Homo sapiens: one gene and its partners. The protein of the gene in region 1 interacts with the protein of each later gene in a pairwise test. Each region holds a gene or a part of one and is shown in the gene's direction. Other genes may lie near its edges.

What was found.
Region 2: the proteins of ZMYND12 (region 1) and SAXO1 interact in binary tests that used the Homo sapiens proteins (3 or more experiments, as listed by UniProt).
Region 3: the proteins of ZMYND12 (region 1) and SAXO4 interact in binary tests that used the Homo sapiens proteins (3 or more experiments, as listed by UniProt).

The regions. Positions count from the first base shown.
Region 1 is NC_000001.11:42,445,947-42,449,603, reverse strand, and holds part of ZMYND12 (zinc finger MYND domain-containing protein 12), read left to right. Parts: intron 1-965; coding exon 966-1,137; intron 1,138-3,657. UniProt on the Homo sapiens protein: Required for sperm flagellum function and male fertility.
Region 2 is NC_000009.12:18,929,659-18,932,345, reverse strand, and holds part of SAXO1 (stabilizer of axonemal microtubules 1), read left to right. Parts: intron 1-2,687. UniProt on the Homo sapiens protein: May play a role in the regulation of cilium length. Stabilizes microtubules at low temperature.
Region 3 is NC_000011.10:61,487,576-61,491,232, forward strand, and holds the end of SAXO4 (stabilizer of axonemal microtubules 4), read left to right. Parts: intron 1-2,206; coding exon 2,207-2,371; intron 2,372-2,925; coding exon 2,926-2,995; 3' UTR 2,996-3,009; intron 3,010-3,238; 3' UTR 3,239-3,353; downstream 3,354-3,657.

The DNA.
Region 1 (3,657 bases):
GAGGCCTCTCTTCCTGGCTTTCAGATGGCTGCCTTCCTACAGTGTCTTCACATGGTCCTTTGTGTGCAAGCATGCCTGGTATCTCTTTGTGTGTCCAATTTCCTCTTTTTATAAAGACACAAGTCAGATTAGGTTAGGGCCCACCCTAATGGCCTCATTCTAACTTAATCACCACTCTACAGGCCCTAGCTCCAATTATAGTCATGTGACAGACTGCAGGATAGGGCTTCAACACATGAATTTTGGCAGGGGACACAGTTCAGCCCATAACATCCACAGATGCCAAGAGTCTGGCCACATAATAGGAGGGTTAAGAATGATGTATGGATATACTACTGAATAAATAAAGGAGGTTACCAAAACCTGCCACTATTATTATGTATAGTGTTGAGTATTATTGAGTATTGAGCATCTCAATCACTCTAAAAAATTAGCCCCTTATTATAAGCCATAAATCTCTAAACATAAGATCCATCCATTTTAGTGTTATGACACTTTGATAGTGGCCTTAGAACAATGCAGAGTTAAAGTTTTTTGTGATATTAGCTAAACAGGATAATTCTGGAAGGGAAAATGAGATGTTTCTCTCAAAATTAACTCAACTAGGAAGGCAGAAAGTTTCAGATTGTCCTGAGACATGCTAGCTTTGCTAAAGTAAAGTTTTATTAGAACTGTAAAAACAATACTCATTTATTCATCTGATAACTCTATATTGAGCATTCATCTATGCCAAGCGCTGAACTAAGATGAAAATACACATGTTCCTGGGCCTTAAGGAACTCATAGTCCAGAGTTTGCTTTCTTATATCACTTATGTGGGGCTTCACGTCCACTCTAATACAGGCAGGCTCACTATGTGCCTTTAACTGGGTCATTAGGTGTTGGCCTTATCCCCAGGGCCATCTACATCCACCTTTGCCTTTAACTTTAGACTGTCTCAGATAGTCTGTTTCTCTCTTCCACAGAAGTATTTGATTGAATTCTGCTACACCATAGCCCAGAAATACCTCTTTGAAGGGAAACACGAAGATGCTGTACCAGCAGCTTTGCAGTCCCTTCGCTTCCGTGTGAAGCTGTATGGCCTGAGCTCCGTAGAGCTTGTGCCTGCTTACCTGCTGTTGGCCGAGGCCAGCCTTGGTGAGTGAAACCGACTTGAGATCCTTGGATCCCTTAAGTGGTGTTATGTTTGGGTCACACCAATGATCAAAGAGTCACCCTTGACAGTGGCACCAAGAGACCTATTGTAGAAGGAGCAGGGTTGCTGTAAAGTTTAGCACAAGGTAGGGAAGGAGATGTCACAGACTTTTGTCTACAACTGGCAGAAATCCACTCAAGCTGGCCTGCACAAAAAGGAGGAACTTTGTGCGGGTGCTGTAGTATCCTACAGGAGCTGAGGCTTCATGAGGGACTAGAATTGGAGTGCCTTTCGTTCTCTCTTGGGCCTTGTCTCCTGTATCTACTTCTCTCTGGGTATCTATCTGCTTTGCTATTTTCCCTCTCTGCAGACCAGATTTGTCTACCCTATGCTCACTGTAGAAGACAGCTACCCCAAAATGTCAGATGGAGTTTTTCAGTTTACGTGTTTTCTAGGTTTGAAGTAGGCAGTAGAAACTAATTAGCTTCTGATTTCCAAATACAAATTCGTAGAAGACAGAATTTTGTTGACATGGCTTGAGTGTGGAATCCACCTTTATTCCCTGGGATCAGAGCCACATAGTTCAGAAATACAGGAACCCACCCCTATAGATGGGAGAGGCAATTCTGAGAGTATAGAGCAGACTTAGCAGATACCCTACATGGTGGCCACCATTTAAAAAAATGCTTCATATGTTTTAATAGCCACCATTAAAAAAATACTTTTTTAAAAGTAAAACTTTTTTAAAAGTAAAACTGTTAAAATTAAGTACAATATAAAGAACTTTTATCCCCTGAGTTCTCTGAGAGTAAGTTGTTCACCTGATTCCCTATCCTTAGAATACTTCAGTGTCCCCTTAGTAAATGAGATATATTGTATTGTGGTTATGAAGGAGAATGTCTTTGTGGGAACCACACAAGGGGACCCTGTCATCTAAGAAGACCCCATTCAAGTTTCTCGAATTTTCCCAATAACATCTTTATAGCAAAAGGATACAGTTCAGGGTCACACTTTTCATTTTGTTGCCATGTGTTGGCAACAAAACTCTGGAATAGTTTCTCAACCTTTTCTTGACTTTTATGATCTTGACACTTTTACAGGTTACAGGCCAATTGTATAAAACATTTCTCAATTTGAGTTTGTCTGATATTTCCTAATGATGGGACTCACGTTATGGATTTTTGGCAAAAACAGTACAGAGGTGATGCTGTGTTCTCATCCCATCCTATAAACTGGCATGTTTTCATTTTTTTCATTACTGATGATGTTCATTTTAATTACTTTATTAGGATGGCGTCTGCCAGTCTTCCTCCCTGTAATGTTACTCTTTCACCCTTCTGTAATTAATAACTTTAATTTTCATTTCATGGATACGTCCTTTGAAACTATATAAATATCCCATTCCTCATCGAATTTTCAATGTATTCATTTAGTTATTTGTATCAGTATTTTATCTTTATTCAATGGGCTTAAATCCATTACTATCGTTAATTTGATCCTCAAACTGTCCCTGATTTGACCAGTGACAAACCCCACTCAAGCTGGCTTCTGCATCTCCCAGATACAACCCCATTTGTTCTTTGCTCACTTGACTGCTTTCTGGAACATACCTCTAAAGAGCCCTGATCTCTTTCAGTGGAAAGTGAAAATCAGAAGCCAAAAGCTGTGCACTAGATGTACTCATGCTTTTGGGGTATTACTGCTCCCAGGCCTTCTCAGTGGAGTTAGGGAGTAAGTGTAAATATAATAATGGGTGTACGTATACACACATTACATCTGTATTTATTTCTATATCTATATATCTTTTTTTTTTTTTTGAGACCGAGTCTCACTCTGTCACCCAGGCTAGAGTGCAGTGGCGCAATCTGAGCTCACTGCAGCCTCCACCTCCCTGGTTCAAGCAATTCTCCTGCCTCAGCCTCCCGAGTAGCTGGGACAACAGGTGTGTGCCACCACGCCTGGCTCATTTTTGTATTTGTAGTAGAGACGGGGTTTCACCATGTTTGTGATCTTGAACTCCTGTCCTCAAGTGATCCACCTGCTTCAGCTTCCCAAAGTGCTGGGATTACAGGTATGAGCCACCGTGTCTGGCCTGTATCTATATATCTACATCAATATCTCTATGACCACTAGTCTATACTGTTTGATCCAGATCTAATACAGCACCATAGGGTTCAATCTGATTTACTTCCATTCCTTAATTGCAACTCCCTTTGCTGACAGCTTTCACTTTCATTGGTTTATTTACATATTAATGAGTTCCCCTGTATGAATCAATCCCCGCTCTCTAACTCCGTCCTTTCCACCTTATAGATACCTCTTCCCGCTCCATGGGCCCTGACTCCCCATTCCAGGCTGCCTCTGCTGCATGGATCCCTCCTCACTTGTGTGGGTTCCAACTCCCCATAACAGGCTGTTTGCCTGCAGGAATGCCCTGCTCACCCTGCCCAGGTCTGACACCCCATTCCAGACTGTCTTTCCTCCAAAGTAATGAGAAAAGCACTGGACAAGAAAATACAGCC
Region 2 (2,687 bases), on another chromosome or scaffold:
TATGTCTATTGTCGTTAACTTCTCACAAAGATGCCTAGGCACTTCAGTGTGGGAGAGGATAGTCTTTTTGATGAATGGTGCTGGGACAGTTGGATATCCACATGCAAAAAGACGAAGTTACCGCATCCAAACTCAAAAGAGTCAGAAACCTAAATGTAATAGCTAAAACTATAAATGTTTCAAAATAAAACATGGGAGAAAAATCTATGATATCTTGGGACAGGCAAAGAATTTAGACATGGCATCAAAAGCATGATTTATTAAAGATATAAATAGGACTTTATCGCAATTCAAAACCTTTGGGCACTTAGAAAGACACCATTAAGAAATGAAAAGAGTCAGGTGTCAGGTGGGTGTTTTGTTAAAATAATAAGAAAATGAAAAGAGAAGTGATAGACTTGGAAAAAAATTTGTAAATCACATACCTGGTGTAAGATTTGTATTTAGAACATGCAAAGAATTCTATAACTCAATAAGAAGACAATCTAATTTTAAAATGGGCAAAACATCTCAATATTTTACCAATGAAAGCACATGAAGAGCGGATAAGTGCATGCAGAGATACTCAACATCATTAGTCATTAGAGAAATGTAAATGACACTGCAAGATACTACTAAATACCCATTGGAATGTCTATAATAATTTAAAAACACAGATGATAACAAATATTGACAAGGATGTGGAGAAATGAGAATGTTTATACGTTGCTGGTGGGATGTAAAATGGCACATCTACTTCTCCACTTTGAGAACATTTGGCAGTATCTTTTTTAAAAAGCTAAAGATAGATTTTTCTATACAACCTAGCAATTTCACTTTATTATCTACCCAAGAGAAATGAAAATATATGTTCACACACAGACTTCTTCACAAAGGCTCATAGCAGAATTTCTTTATAATAGCCAAGGAGTAGAAACAACTCAAAATGTCCATCAATTGGTGAATGATAAACAAAATTTGGTATCATATAATATTATTCAACAATAAAAAGGTGAACTACTGATACAGGCTACATTATGGATGAACCTCAATTACATTACACTAAGTGAAAGAAGCCAGATGCAAAACGCTACATATTGGGTGATTCTATTTATATGAAATGTCCAAAAAATGCGCAGTTATAGAGACCAAGAGCAAATTAATGGTTGCCTGGGGCTGGAGATGGGAGTAAAGACTGACTACAAATGAAGATAATTGGTATTTTTGGCATGATGCAAATACTCTATAACTTGATTTTGGTGATGGATATACAACTCCATAAAAGTCACTAAATTGTGTACTTCAGATGGTACCTTTTATTATGCAAATTAGATTTCAATAAAACTGTTACAAATTGTGCCTGCGGACTCCACTAGTGTTGGTGTGTATACCCAAGGCTCCTGGGAAGCAGCTTTTTTTTCTAACCTTTCGTACAGCAGTAAGCAAGAGAATTCCCTATAGATTCAGAGGGCTCACTAGGGCTAATTTAAATCTGGTAATTTATGGGCCTGATGGGGCAACCTAGGTCTTGGATGTTAGTCAAGTATTTTGAAAGAATGCCAGCAGTAGGCCGGGCGTGGTGGCTCACGCCTGTGATCCCAGCACTTTGGGAGGCCGAGGTGGGCGGATTACCTGAGGTCGGGAGTTCGAGACCAGCCTGACCAACACGGAGAAACACCGTCTCTACTAAAAATACAAAATTAGCCGGGTGCGGTGGCACATGCCTGTAATCCCAGCTACTAGGGAGGCTGAGGCAGGAGAATCGCTTGAACCTGGGAGGTGGAGGTTGCGGTGAGCTGAGATTGTGCCATTGCACTCCAGCCTGGGCAACAAGAGTGAAACTCCATCTCAAATAAAAAAAAAAAAGTTCCAGCAGTGCCAAGGCAGTTGAATCACATGGTTTGTCATCCCATTTTTCTCACCTAGACTTTCAGTCTTGGTGTGCTGGCCCTGATGGTCTGTGTGGCAAAGCCAGTTTCAAAGGCTTACAGTGCTGCCTGAAGACAGTATCTGGTCCTCAAGATGCATGGAGGCCATCTCTACTGCAGATTTCCTTGGGGTCCAGGCCTCCCATTATGTTGGCCATTCCAGCCCCACAGCAGAGGTTCCTCTGGAGATGGACATCTAGATTGGCCAGTTCTTCTCATTCTTCAAACATTCTGAAGTTCTTTTCCTCCTGAAAATCTTCCCTCTGATTATTTTTTTCTTTAACCTTTACTCCATCTGGAAATAAAATGCCCCTAAGTGTGATATGAGGTATCAGAAGAACATGGCTTTGGAGACAACAATACGGTTTAAATTCCAACTCACCTCACTAGCCATGTGACTTTTGGGCAAGTTTCTTAGCTCCTCTGAGCCTTGTATTTAGAAATCTGTAGAATGGAGAGAATCATACCCATCACAAAGGGTTATTGTGAAGATGAAACAAGATCATGTATGGAAAGACTTGAGCACAATTGACCGACATGTAGTTGGTATTCCCTAACTGTTAGAACCAGAGAGTAGAGTGGGTCAGATCGTGGGCTCTGGGTCTGAATTTGCATTTGTGCTTTTCCACTTCTAGCCAAGTGAGCTGGGACAAATTCCCTCATTTTCTGTATATCTGTTTCTGCATCTATAAAACTGGCATTAATAGTACCCACCTTATTAGGACAGTCTGAAGATTAAGTGAGTTAATATATACAGCACTTAGAATACTGCCTGTTATG
Region 3 (3,657 bases), on another chromosome or scaffold:
CCACATCCATCGGTCATTGGTTAAAGGCTATCCCCAGGGCAACATTAAAGCCCAGGTGCCTCCTTGCTCAGGCAAAGCAGCTTCTAGCATCCCAAGGGTAGCTTTCCCACAGAGATGCAGGGCATTGGTGGCCAGGCTGGTGGGCATGGAAAGAACAGGGCAGTGCGAGGGAGTCTGGAGCAGCAGCATCTGCTAAGACATTCCATCCAGCCAATGGTTGGTGGGCTCGATGCTCCCTCAGAAGGTAAATTCTGTGCTGTGCATTCCCTGGGTTAGGAGTGACTGTCCTGGGCATCAGGGAGGGCTTCCAGGAAGGAGGTGGCCCCAGAGCCATGGGGAAGCCTCCTGGGGCCAGGACTGGGTGGGGAAAGCATTATAGGAGTGGTATAAAGGAAGTGTAATTCTTCTTCTTCTTTTTTTTTTTTTTTTGAGATGGAGTTTCACTCTGTCGCCCAGGCTGGAGTGCAATGGCGTGATCTCAGCTCACCGCAACCTTCGCCTCATGGGTTCAAGTGATCCTCCTGTCTCACCCTCCTAAATAGCTGGGATTACAGGCATGTGCCACCATGCCCAGCTAATTTTTGTATTTTTAGTAGAGATGGGGTTTCGCCATGTTGGCCCGGCTGGTCTTGAACTCCTGACCTCAAGTGATCTGCCTGCTTTGGCCTCCCAAAGTGCTGGGATAACAGGCATGAGCCACCGTGTCCTGCCAAGAAGTACAATTCCTTTTTTTTTTTTTTTTTTTTTAAGATGGAGTCTCTCTCTGTCGTCCAGGCTGGAGTGCAGTGGTGCGATCTCGGCTCACTGCAAACCCCGCCTCCCGGGTTCACGCCATTCTCCTGCCTCAGCCTCCCGAGTAGCTGGGACTACAGGCGCCTGCCACCACGCCCGGCTACATTTTTGTATTTTTAGTAGAGACAGGGTTTCACTGTGTTAGCCAGGATGGTCTTGATCTCCTGACCTCGTGATCTGCCCGCCTCCAGGAAGTATAATTCTTAGGACAAACTCCGAGCCAGGAAGCGCAAGCTTTCCTCACAACATCAGTCACCTGTGTCCACCCTGCTTCCTCTCCAACTCCTGGTCCTTCAAGGTGTCCCTGCCACCTCTCTGTCTCCTCCCCCTGCCCCACCCCCTGCTCCGGGATACCTCCCAGAATCCATTCATGGAATAGACTTTAACTGAGCCCTGACTGGGTGCCAAGCCCTGCTCCAGGCCCTGGGAATGTGTGTGCAGCTCCTGCCCTACGGAGCTCAGACCTCTGCATGGGAGGAGACATGCATGTGGCTGCAGCCAGTTAGCGAGAGCTGTTAGGTAATGCGCAAAGAGAAAGGGATCGCGAGGGCTGCAGTGCGCACGGGTCGGATTTGAAATCGGTGGCCTTGAGCAGGTGACGTTTGAACTGAGACTGAAAAGAGGGGAGGGCGGTGTCCTGGAGGAGCAACAGAGAGTCTGAGCTGGAAGGGCCGTTTGTTGTCCTCTGGCCTAAACCCTGAGGCTCAGAGGGGAGGAGCAGAGCTTCCGCCCGCACAGCAGACTCAGCACAGTGGCCGCTCCAGTTCCCACGGAGGTGGGGGAGGGGCAACGATGTTCTGACCCCTTCTTAGGCAAACACCTCCTCCTGTGGCTCTGGCAGAGACCAGCTCCAGTCCTGTCTGCTGGGTCCTTCCAGCCTGTCGTGTCCTGTTGTGTCCTGAGCTCCTGCTGGCTGTCAGGCACGCTTGCTGGTGCTTCCTGGTGCGCGCAGAGCCCCGGGATTGTCATCACTGATTCCTGCATTGATCTGTCTGCACCCCCTCTTCATAAGTTCAAGGGTGGGACCCCCTTCTTACTTGTCTTTGCACCCTCTGGACCTGGCTGTGCTCAGTGAAATGGAAGGAAATGGAAATGAAATGGAAGGAAAGTTAAGTGCCTAGAGAAGTGGATGAGACGGGGTCCCCACCCCAAGGTACTGGCAGGCCAGGGACAGGGGCATCACTGAAACTGTCCTTTAACACTCCAAAGAGTGTTTCAGCGTCAGGTGGAGGGGAGGGCAGGCTTTTTGAGTAAGAGTTCCCCCAGTGGACGTGGGCTTAGGGAGAGCTAGACGAGGACAGCATGAGCAAAGGTGGGGAGGCTGGGCGATCTGAGGGTCGATGGAGAAGGGCAGCAGGGGTTGCAGAGGTGGGCAGAGTCCAGCTTCCAGCCAAGGACCCCTCCTCTCCTCCAGGTACTTTGAGAACATCCCCAAGGGTCTAGACCAGGAAGGCTGGACTCGAGGTGGCATCCAGCCCCAGATGCCAGGAGGCTACGCCCTCAGCCAGCCGGTCAGCTGCATGGAGGCCACCCCCAACCCCATGGAGAGCCTGCGGCACCTGCATCCCCACGTGGGAAGGTGGCACCACCCCCAGCTCTGTTCTTTCTCCCTACCCCTCATCCAGGCCGTGTGCCAGGCCTTTCCCTTCCTCTCCTCTCTTGCTGTCAGTCCGGTTCATTCCTATGAGAGGCCCATCTCCTCTGGCTGGCTCTGGTGTCCCTTCTCCTGCTAGCACAGGCTCCTCCCCTCCTCTCCTTCCAGTGACCCCTCCCTCAGATGGCTCCTCCTCCCTCTCCTGCCCCTGTTCCCCAGGCCCGGTGGACTGGATGGGGAGGATCTGAGCAAGGGGCTCTGGGGTGGTTCAGATCCAGAGGGGGATGCGGGGACGGATCCAGAGATGAATGGACTGTGGTTCGGCCTCACTCAGCTCCTTTCTGCTCAATTCAATTCCTCAGAAATTACATTTATATCAACAATGGCCCAGAGTTGGCAGGCAAAGAATGTTTGTGGCTTGGCTGCCCTGGCTGAACCCTGGCTATGCTCTCTCAGGGAGGGTCAGGCAGAAGACAAGAAGACAAGGTCCATGCCCTGCCTGCCAACACCCCCAACACTCTCCTCTTGCCTCCCTGCAGAACCCTGACCTCAGCTGACCCCTTCTACCAGAACACACCTCACAGCAGCCGCTGCGTGGCACACAGCTGAGCCCTGAGCCCTTGGTAAGGGGCTGGGGATCCCCACACTCAGCTGCTCTGGTTGTGTGGGCAACCGTTATGGGCCAGCCCTGCCTCTCAAGCCCTGGGTTAAGCAAGTCCTGCCTGGGGACCCCCCTTCCAAGTGGGGGGTGACAGATCAGGGGGCCTCTCAGAACCCCTTCTCTGCCAGGCAAGCACACAGAACCACCCCAGAGCCCCTTGCTCAGGCCTCGCCTCTGCTTCTCCTCTACAGGTTTGTCAATCCTAGGGGACAGGAGCCAGGCTACTGTCTGTACCCCCACTCCATCCCCCAGGGGAACACCCCTGCCCAGCTACTTTCCTAATGAAATAAAGAGCATTGAAGCAGAGAAGTGTGACATCACTATCAGGGTGGCTGGAAAAAGGAGGGGTGAGCTGGGGCGGTGGGTGCAGGGGTGGAGGAGCTAGGGCCAGATTTGGAGTCGGAAGGGCTCGGCTGGAACCTCTGAGGAACCATGACACGATGGATAGGCACTTCATTCTCCACGCTCAGTTTCTTGTCCTGTAAAGGGGTCCTCTATGGCCTGTGCTGCTTGGGAAAGTGCTTGGTCAAGTGTGGGTGGAAGAACCCCAGGGGAGGGGCAGGTGGTCCAGAGAAGGGGAGGGAAGCAGACGCAGGGCAAGGGGACAGAG